2 separate regions of the Homo sapiens genome follow, and region 2 is linked to region 1. Evidence: fine-mapped expression QTL. A gene starts in region 1. The other region holds a variant in brackets. All regions are shown on one strand. Distances are from middle to middle.

Region 1 (5,373 bases):
AATAACTATGAAATAACCCTAGCACCAAACCTTCAAACTACAGTTTGACAATTTAATGGGAGAAAAAAAATCAGTAGTATAAAAAAACTATGATATTTTAAATAAGTGTAAATTTTAAAATCTATGAATAGCAAAGACGATATTCTTTTATAGCTATGACATCATTCAAGAATTAAAGTCTTGGCAATGCCTATCATTATAGTCTACCATTTTGCTATGTAAATTTTAACAATTTTTATATGCTAAAGAGCAATCAAATGATAAATTCGATAGCACAGACTAATATCTCAAAATCTCTGTTCAAAAGCCAGTTTGATTCTAACTGTGAGATGTCATGATTTAGAAGCACTCCAAGAGTCAGGGCAAGGTAGGGTCTCAATAGGGTTCTGGAGCTGTTGTAGGTCAACTGTGATTTGATCTGGGGTTTTCTTTAGACTCCTTGCCAAACTAAGGCTGGATTCACAGGCCCAAAGACAAATGAGAACCAGACTGGCCTTGAAGGGGATGCTGCAGCTTTTTCAAATGAATTGAAAAATCTGAACATCAGATGATAGGGATTTCCGTCAGGTTGCAAATTTTATCTAAATATGTAGGAGCATTATCATCTTGTTCCAACATTTCTATCTCATAAAAAGCAAGGACATTAAAATTATAAAATTAAGCATGAGTAATACACAAAGAATAAACTAGAACACCAGGAAATAACATCGAAAATCCTCTAAACCTAGTGGGAAAAGTGAGCCAAAAAGAGTGCCAAGTTCTCCTGCAAGGCATTAGGCACGGATACCAATTTGAATTCCTGTACAAACCTACAAAGTCCCTGGAATCACTGCCTGGCAAACTAAGTTCCCATTCGACTGCAAAGCAACACTACCTACTCCTTCGTATTTCCAAATAGACCATGTGTATCGGCTCAGACAACAGAATATTTTAAATCTATTCCTTGAGCTAAAGGATACCATTTAAAGCTAACGATCCTGTGAATAAGATACTACACTGGTCAAATTTTAGGCTTTTTCTTTATAAATACATCCAAAGGCCAGCTAACTCTTAACCGTTGTTTGCATTCGGATTCCTGGTCTGATGACTCTTAGGGGCAATCAATGGGAAGTGAAGTTGAGAAGAAGGTGGGTGCAGACGGCTTTATAACTGTAAAAGTAAAGGACTAGCTAAAAGTGGCCGAACAGAGGAGCTGACACTCGGGAAAGTGAAGGTCGGGGAAGGTTCGTGCGGTTGTTAAAGCAAGACCGGGAAAGGGCAAACCTGGAAGAGGAGTGAAGGACTCTACTTCACGGGACGCAAGATAGGAAGTGCAGGTTAAGCAAGCGCGCAGGTGGGGAAGGGTGTTGGCCTCCCCTAGGATGGAAAGAGTTCAGGTGGGAATTAGAAGGAAACAGCCAAGACTTCACAGAAAACCTGTTTGAATAAGGAGGAGGGCGTGAGGTGACGCCAAGGCATTGTGGGGAACTCGGCTCACACACTACCAGTCCCAACTGAGCAGGAGAAACCCAGCAGGAAATGGCTCTGCTGGCGCAGAGGCAAGCGTTGCCAGCCCCTGCGCTCGCTGCTGGGGCTGCGCCCTCGGAGGTTACCTTTGAGCTGGGGCAGCGGGTGCAGCTCTGCCTGGCTGCCCTGGCTGCGAAACTGCGACGAGCCCTGGGAGCGCTTCTGCCTCTGCGCCTTGCGGACCGATTTCCGGGTGAAGCCGTCCACTTTCTCCGAGGCCGAGATGGCGGCGCTGGCAGCCCCCGCCGGCGGCGACGACGACGACATCTCCGCGGCCCTGACGCTTGGCAGCTCCGGCTGCTGCTTGCAAGGCACGGGCAGCGGCGGAGACGGCAGGAGGAGGCGGGGGAGAGGCGCGGGGTGCTCGCGCCCCTGCGCCCCGGCCCCACGGCCCTCCGGCCCCGGGACGCCGCCGAGCTTCTCCTCGCCGCCCGCCAACGCCTCACGGCCACATCTCAGCGCTGGAGGTTCCTGGTCCCCGGCGCGCGGCGAGCTCCCGGGGCTGACGGAGGGAAGGGCGGGGGCGGAGGGGGGTGAAGAAGTTGTTGACTCTGGGCGCGCAGAGCGGGTGGAAGAGAGCCCGAAGTTTAGACAACTGAGGCGGGGGCACGGGGGTGCGGGTGCCGAGCGCGCCTCTCGTCGCTTCTGCCCCCGTCGCCAGCCAGCCGGCCGGCCAGCACCTCAGCGGCCGCTGCCAGCGCAGCCCGCCCTGCCTGGAGCCTCCTCTCAGGGCGCTGCCATCGCGGGTCCCCTCGGAGCCACTGCCGCGGTGCCCGCTCTTCCCGGTCAACGCCGGCCCCTCATCGCCCGGGGCGCTGCCCCGTAGCCCCGGCCCTCTGCGTGCACACACTCGCTCCTTGCCGCGCTGGGCGGCCCGAACCCCCTCCCCCACGCGCCCGTCGGCCGCCCACGGAGAACCCCAGGCGAGCGACCGCTACAACTTGAGAAGGTGGTTGGTACAGGCGACTGGGGAGTGTGTGCGCGTGTGCGCGCGCCAGGGCGCGCGGCCCGGGGAGGGGCCTCGCAAGGGGTGGGAAGGAGGAGTTTGACTGACAACTTCCGCGGGGTCCCGCCCGCCTCTTGGTGCGGCGGCGGGGGAGGGGGCGGGAAAGCATGCCAGCCCTCTTAGCCAATCACACGGCTAAGCGGCAGCGACGGCGTGAGGTGCGGCCTCTTGAGGCAGAGGAGTGGGGCGGGCTGTGTGACGGGCTTCGGCCACAGCCAATCGTAAGTGAAGACGGCGAGCGGGGTGCCCCTGCGTCAGAACAAATGCGGCAAATCGCTTGGGAGGGAGGGGAAGCGCTCCTCCACCAGCGGGCATTTTTGCGCTCACGCGCGACTGCTCCAGGCTGTCATTGCTCTCCTGACCGTCTACGAGAAGACTGGGAAACTTGAGAGGGTGCGTTCAGAGAGCAAAATAGAGCGCCCCTTCCCTTCCCTCACCTCTCTGCTGGCCAATGAAGAACTGAAGCGATTGGTGGGGCGCCGGAGGGCTGGGGCGCGAAAGAGCGCCAGGTGTTACACCACTGAAAGGGGGCGCAGCAGAGGTCAGGTGGCGAGCAAGCAGTGTGATTGACGGGCGAGGGGCCCGGGGAAGGCGAGAAGGTGAGCTCGTCCAATCGTTGCGAGGTCTGGACACCTGGGCGGGTCTTGGCGCCTTACTGGCCCCAAACCGCAAAATTGGTAGTTGCGGAATAAATTTGTAGCTCTTGGGAGGTTCGGACTCCGCAACTCCAGAGAGCTACTCTCGCGTGGGGTTTGGGCAGTCTAGCATCTGCTGCTTCAAAGAGTTCTGCAAGTCCACGCCCTCTAAAAAGAGATTTCTCATTCCCAATTTAGTATCCTGCTAATTTTCACCCCTCCTTGAGCCAAAGGCCCTCAACTACTCCAACGAGAAGAGTACAAATTCATTGGTCAGTGGTGTGTGGATATGGAGGCTTGCCATGTACTCTTACCGGAATCTCTTTCTTGGAGATTCCGTCTAGATTTTGAATTTCTTAAGGACGAGGACTGGTCATCTTAGTTTTTCGTGCAGTGCTTTCCATACGGTGGCCGTTAATAATTATTAATCTGAACAGTCAGCCTCCCTTTGCGCCAATGGACCCAAATCTGTAATCCCCTCCCTCGAGCTCCAGACCTTTTCCTTTCAACATAATAAAAGTAATTGTCGTATATTTAAACGAAGCCACCTGATGCATATGTACAGAAGATTCCAAATTTGGCAGGAAGTTGAATTCTAGACCTAGAACCAAACATACTATCCTCAAAACATTTCCTCCTTCAGATTTGCTGGGCGGTGAAATTGTACATAATCCTCCCAGTCAAGGAGGTTCAAACCTCAGCAGCGTTTCTGACACTTTTCGCTTTCTCACATAGTCAAGCTCCAGATCATGTTAAATCTACTTTCACAATTGGCGTTTCTCCCAATGTGTACAAAGACCGCCAAACGTAGTTCACGGCTTTCAAACTCACTGCCACATCAATCTTTTAAGATCACTTTTATCTTACCTGCGTGTTTGAGGAACCACCCAATACCTGCAGAATAGAGTCCAAATTCAAGACTCTCTGCGATCTGACTCCTGTCTTTCCAAGTGTAAATTCCTACATGTGCCCACAAAAACTCTTTTTAGTTCAGGCACATCATTCCACATACTGATCCCCTAAAAGAAGTTATGCATCCTCAACACTTAGTCTTTGCTGTTCCAACATCTTGAAATAATCCACTTTTTTTTTTCTTTTTTGAGACGGAGTCTTGCTCTGTCACCCAGGCTGGAGTGCAATGGTGGCACAATCTCGGCTCACTGCATGCTCCGCCTCCCGGGTTCAAGCGATTCTCCTGCCTCAGCCTCCCGAGTAGCTGGGATTACAGGCACCTGCCACCACGCCCGGCTAATTTTTTGTATTTTTAGTAGCGACGGGGTTTCACCATGTTGCCCAGGCTTGTCTCGAACTCCTGACCTCGTGATTCGGCCACCTCCGCCTCCCAAAGCGCTGGGATTACAGGCGTGAGCCACCGCGCCCGGCCCATTTTTTTTTCATCTTTTTGAAATTTCTTTTCTTCAAACCCCCTATCTTTTATGAAGCTTGACAATCCAGCCAGAAGTGATGCCTCCCTTCTTTGTATTCCTATTGCATTTAGTGTCCACACCACTCACAGCTGAAAGTTTGTCAACACCAAGAGAGCAAGAACTCAGTTATTTTATTTTACACCTCTGTTTCCCCTACTGAGCAGAGGATAACAATCACATTTTTAGTTCTCAACAGCAGAATTTCTGAAAGCGTGGTTACTGGATCACCTGCATCAGCATCCTCTGGGGTGCTTATTGAAAATGCAGATTCCTGGACCTCCCCCGCCTCCCCCCAACAGAACTAGAACCTATGGGAAGAGCACTGAGAAGTCTATTTTTAATAACTTCCCTAGGTTATTCTTATGTACACAAAAGTTTGGAACTACTATTCTCTAGTCATCTAGAAGTTATTAAAAACAGAATGTAAATGTCTGTAAGTCAGGAGTAGTACTATTTATAATAATTTACATAAAATAAGAAAGGGAGACAAATAGCAGAAAGAAAATCAGTACAGGCCGGGCGCAGTGGCTCACGTCTGTAATCCCAGCACTTTGGGAGGCCGAGGTGGGTGATCACGAGGTCAGGAGTTTGAGACCAGCCTGGCCAACATGGTGAAACCCTGTCTCTACTAAAAATAAAAAATTAGCCAGGTGTGGTGGTACGAGCCTGTAGTCCCAGCTACTCAGGAGGCTGAGGCAGAAGAATCGCTTGAACCCGGGAGGCGGAGGTTGCAGTGAGCCAAGATTGCGCCACTGCACTCCAGCCTGGGTGACAGAGTGAGACTCCGTTTCAAAAAAGA
Region 2 (5,373 bases), 29 kb after region 1:
CCCAGCCAGATATTTGTTTCTTGTTTAAATCCACTTGGTTCTTTTCGCTTTGTCTCTCTGCCCTCCCACCATTACGTACACAATGTTTTGGTTGCATGTTTCTGTCTGTTTTTGCATGCATGCATGTGTGCTCTGTCTCCTCCAAAGTTCAGGCCAAAGTTCACAGACGGCCATGGCTCTCCACCAAGCCCACTGCAGTGCTGTGTACACAGTGGAGGTTGCCTCCTTCATTGGCCCAGAGCCTGTTTGGGATCATTCACAATCCCTACAGTCTGCAGCCATCTCTACAAGAGGCCAGTTTGTATAGCTTTTCCTCATAGTATTCATTTCCACAGTGTTCTGTGTCCTGTACTGGATCTGTGCTGAGTTACTGAACATTAAGATTTTGCTTTTGTCTCAGAGACACCTGATGAGAACGTTGTGTGTCGTGACCTCAACCAGCTCAAAACAATTAAAATGTGATATCTCAACTGGATTGGAACACTTCTACCATTTCCCAGTAATACCTTTTGGGAGAGAAGGAGTAAATTTGGAGCTTGTCCTTTCAGGGATTGGGATTCACTGAGATACCAGGTCTCTTCTATTGCAAATAGAAAACAGTTTTTATATAAGGGTTGTAACTCTTGCCCATCCATCTGCAGAGTACATGCTTTTATGGGTTATTTATTTAAAAAAATTAAAGAGTTGTGTTAAACCATTTTTTTGTTGTTGTTGTTTTGAGACAGGGTCTTGTTCTGTCACCCAGGCTGGAGTGCAGTGGCACAATCTTGGCTCACTGCAGCCTCGACCTCCTAGGCGCAAGTGATCTTCCTACCTCGGTCTCCTGAGTAGCTGGGACTATAGGTGCACACCACCATCCCCAGCTAATTGTTTTTAAAAGTATTTTTTGCAGAGATGGAGTCTCACTATGTTGCCCAGGCTGGTCTCAAACTCCTGGGCTCATGCATTCCCCCTATCTCAGCCTCCCAAAGGCTGGGATTGCAGGCATGAGCCACCACGCCCGGCCTAAACCATTTTTATTCTCATCCAATGGTCTGAAGTTGAGAACCGTTGGTCAAAGTTAGGAGTGCTGCCTGTGACACTGGAGTGGATGGAAGTTCACTGGCCCACAAAGGAATCAGATTCGTGACCTTGGCCCTATTACCACTAAACCAACTAGGATATTAGCCCAGAGGCCTGGCAAAGATAGAGCTTGGCCACAACTCCCTTGAGAAAGAGCAGGCTACTCTGCAGATGACCATTTCTAGATCCCCATGGTTTCTGGGCAGTCTGACCCCAGATCCCCAGTGACCAGCTTCCCCTCACCCCAGATGGCTTCCTGTTTGAATGGTCTTCCTACTTCATTAGGTGGGAATAAGTCAAGATAAATGCCACTCAAGCCTATGTCAAGATGGTTAAGAGGAGGGGGCTGGGAACTAGGCACATCTGAATCTGCATCCCAGTGCTGCCGCTTGGTGCTACCTGGTCTTGGGCAAGTTGCTTAACCTCTCTAAACCTTATTTCCTCATGTTTAAAAAGGGTATTGTGATAGCTGCTACTTCATGTGTTTGCGGGGTGATTAAAGGAGAAAAGGCATGTAATGTGTGGAGCACTATGCTTGGAAGACAGTAGGTACTCACTTGGTGGTAGCTCTTCTTCATACATTCATAATATTGTAAATAGTGATAATAAGAAGCCATATTGAAAGTGATTACAACAAGACAGGGCCATGTTGGCCGTGCTCTCAGGACACAACCCCAGTCACTCCTGCCTGCCTTCTCCCAAGGTGACCCAGTTAGACAGTGCCAGCTTTGTTGGGGGCTGCTGAGTGAAGTGAGAATCCTGGCCTGCATCAGGCTGCCTGGGCATGACCCCTGAGCTAGCAGCCATGGGAGGGGAGCAGAAGGGGCAGGGGAGAAAGAGTGTGCTAGTGGGAGGGCTGGGACTTTGAGGAGGAAGTGGGTTTGTGGTAGGGACAGGGTGGGGTAAAGAAGAGGGATGGGCAGAGCTTGAGAGATTTTTAGCAGGAAGGAAGGCAGTTGAGCAAAAAAAGAAAAAAAAAATCCCTTTGTGTCTTATTGGCCTCTTGCTGTCATTTGCTGAAAATGAGGACTCAGATAAACCAATGCAAATCTTCTCGGGTATCACAAAACTCAGGCCTCTCTCTTTTTGTGTCTTTTGTGGGGCATGAGAGAGGTACGGTCTCATCATTGTCCTATCTGCAGCTCCAAAAAAGAAAAAACGGGCTGTGTTTTTCAGATGGTCAGACCATCAGACCAAGATTTAACATGCCTTTTTCAGCCTAAAAGTCTTCTTGCACAACCTGGTGTTATTTCCACAGGCAACTGAAGTAACTCTGCTCTTGAAATCCTGCCCCATGTGACTTTTTCTTGTTTGTTAGCCCAGTAACTAAATAGTCATGACAGGAAGAGAATCCCCCTGTTCTGTGAGGCAGGGACCTGGGAGGTCAGCAGCACCCTGTGGACATCTCCAGGGAGGGCACGTTATATCCTGTGTACTTGGGACAGGGGAAATAGAGCTGGTCCCCACTCTCGGGGGCCTAGCTTAATGCTCCGTGTCGTTCTTCAGCCACACAGTTATCCAACCGAGAGGCAGCTCGGTGTAAACAGAATGACTCTAGAGC[C/T]ATGCCCCATGGAACACTGGGCAGGTTCTCCTATCACAACAGGAAGCAAAGTCACAGGAGAGCAGGATGTCAAAAGCGAGGTTTCTTCAGCACCTGTGGAGACACCAACTTGTCTCCTCACCCTCCCCCATAGTTCCATCTTGGCTAGACCACTCACTTTCCCAGATTCATTTTCAGACCTTCATCCTCAAACTTCAATCAGGTTTTATATGGGAAAGGGGCCGGGGTGAACGATTTCATCCCAGTGGATCTATTTGATTCTGAGTCTCCTCATCTCACCCCTGAAATAGCCTATTGTTTGGAACAATCTGTTGTTTGAAATATCTCAGCTTGGTTGTTCTGTTTCCACCCATTTTGCACGTTCAAAATCAACCCCTAATCCTCATCTCCCAAATCATCTCAGTTTCCTTATTTCCATTAAACAGGACAGCCATTTATCCCATTGTTCAAGTACTACTTTGCCTCACCCATACTAGCTTCATAAATGGTCACCAGCAGATTCTGCTGATTCTTGATTCATCTGAAATGTCTCTTGTCACTGTCACTTCTGTACAATGCAAGCTTTTATCCCTTCCTCATGCCTGGACCTGGGTAACAGCCCCTTACCAGACCTCTCGGACTCACGCCAGCATTATCCACATTAATCTGCCTGGAACACAGGTTGCATCACTCTCTTTGCACAGAAGCCTCATCACTGGCTTCAGTACAAGGTCCAGCCGGGTGCCCAGCCTGGCATTCCCCACATTCCTCTCCATTCTGGCCACCAACTTCCCCAGGCAATCTCCCACCTCCCCAAAAGATACCCACACTCCTGCCATGCTGTTTTAATACCGCACCCTACCTGGTATGGGAGATGGTAACACAGGAAGGGAGAGAGGGAGGGAGGGAGGAAGGGAGGAAGGAAATGCACACTTCCATCTCCCCCGCAAATCTTTCTGTAGTGGTTCTAGTCTTTGCTACTACACCCTCGTCTGAACTCCACCATCAGTGTCTACGCCATTCATTAAAAAACAGACAAGCTACAGATGATGTGCAAGTGTGTTAAAAAAAAAATAAAAAACAAACAAACCACTTTTATTATAAAAATTTTCAGACTTACATAAAAACCCCTATGACCCCATCAACCAGTTTCAATAGCCATCAAGTTTGCCATACGTATTTAATCTATCCTCCCTTTACCTCCCCACCTTTTTGCTTTTTGGCTGAAGTTTTTTTTCTTTCTCTTTTTTTGAGACAGAGTCTCACTGTACCCCAGGCTGGAGTGCAGTGGCACGATCTTGGCTCACTGCAACCTCTGCCTCCTGGGTCCCAGTTCAAGCAATTCTCCTGCCTCAGCCTCCCGAGTAGCTGGGATTACAGGAATGTGCCACCATGCCCAGCTGATTTTTGTATTTTTAGTAGAGATGGGGTTTCACCATGTTGGCCAGGCTGGTCTTGAACTTGCCTGACCTTGTGATCCACCCGCCTCGGCCTCCCAAAATGCTGAGATTACAGGCGTGAGCCACCGCGCCCAGCCTGCTGAAGCATTTTAAAGCAAATTATAGGTGTTATGTCAACTTACTCCCAAATACTTTAGCATGCATCTTAGAAAGGGTATTTTCTTCTATCACCACAATGCCAAAAATTGATAATTCCTTCTTATCTACAGTCTATATTGAAGTTTCCCAAATTGTTCTTTTTAAAAGTTCATTTTCAGAACCAGGTGCGGTGGCTCATGCCTGTAATCCCAGCACTTTGGGAAGCCAAGGCAGGCAGATCACCTGAGGTCAGGAGCTCCAGACCAGCCTGGCCAACATGGCAAAACCCTGTCTCTACTAAAAATACAAAAATTAGCCGGGTATGGTGGCAGGCGCCTGTAATCCCGGGCATGGTGGCTCACACCTGTAATCTCAGCACTTTGGGAGGATTGTACTTGGTTATGTCTGTGAGGTCTCTTTTCAATCTTTTTTTTTTTTTTTTTTGAGATGATTTCGTTCTGTCACCCAGGCTGGAGTGCAGTGGCACAATCACTGCTCACTGCAACCTGAACCTCCCAGGCTCAAGCGATCCTCCCACCTCAGCCTCCTGAGTAGCTGGACTACAGACATGCACCACCATGCCTGGCTAATTTTTGTATTTTTTGTAGATATGGTTTTTTTTGTTTTTTTTTTTTTTGAGATGATTTCGTTCTGTCACCCAGGCTGGAGTGCAGTGGCGTGATCTCGGCTCACTGCAGCCTCCGCCTCCCAGGCTCAAGCAATTCTCCTGCCTCAGCCTCCAGAGTGGCTGGGATTACAGGTGCACACCACCTAGCCCAGCTAATTTTTATATTTTTAGTAGAAACAGGGTTTCTCTATGTTGGCCAGGCTGGTCTTGAACTTCTGACCTGAAGTGATCCACCTGCCTCGGCCTCCCAAAGTGCTGGGATTACAGGCCTGAGCCACCGTGTCTGTCCCAGGATTTTGCTATGTTGCCCAGGCTGGCCTCTAAGTCTTGTCCTCAAGCAGTCCTCCTGCCTCAGTCTCCCAAAGTGCTGGGATTACAGGTGTGAACCACCACACCCAGCCCTTTAACTCCTTTTAAGCTAGAGTAGTCTCTCCTCTACTTTTCCCCTCAAGTTAATAGGCCTGTAGAATGTCCTACATTCTGGATCTGCCCTGTGGTATCATTTATAGCCTACTCATTACAATCCTAATACCTTGTCTTGATCTTTTTTTTTTTTTTTTTTTTGAGACAGAGTCTGATTCTGTTACTGAGGCTGGAGTACAGTG

Direction of the effects. Positions count from the first base shown, and alleles are read on the strand shown. Sizes are in standard deviations (SD) of each study's normalised expression.
As copies of C replace T in region 2, the expression in whole blood of the gene that starts at base 2,474 in region 1 goes down (large effect, 1.0 SD a copy in Lepik 2017).

What was found. PIP is the estimated chance that this variant, and not a neighbour inherited with it, causes the effect. A credible set is the group of variants that fine-mapping cannot tell apart.
Region 2: its variant is the best candidate, but not a certain one, in a credible set for the expression of PPP2R5A in whole blood (Lepik 2017, PIP 0.79).

The regions. Positions count from the first base shown.
Region 1 is chr1:212,282,511-212,287,883 of GRCh38, reverse strand. It overlaps PPP2R5A (protein phosphatase 2 regulatory subunit B'alpha), which reads right to left and starts at 2,474. Exons shown (of 13, transcript NM_006243.4): 1 at 1,593-2,474. The coding sequence starts at 1,773. LINC02608 (long intergenic non-protein coding RNA 2608) reads left to right here and starts at 2,863. Exons shown (of 4, transcript NR_125984.1): 1 at 2,863-2,905. RefSeq lists a silencer at 1,742-2,711 and an enhancer at 2,882-2,961.
Region 2 is chr1:212,253,103-212,258,475 of GRCh38, reverse strand. All of the region lies in intron 1 of LINC02608 (long intergenic non-protein coding RNA 2608), which reads left to right. Among named protein-coding and RNA genes, the nearest start is that of LINC02608, 29 kb to the left of the region's middle. RefSeq lists enhancers at 2,005-2,184, 1,798-2,299 and a silencer at 5,372-5,373. The variant C/T (reference allele first, on the strand shown) is at 2,624.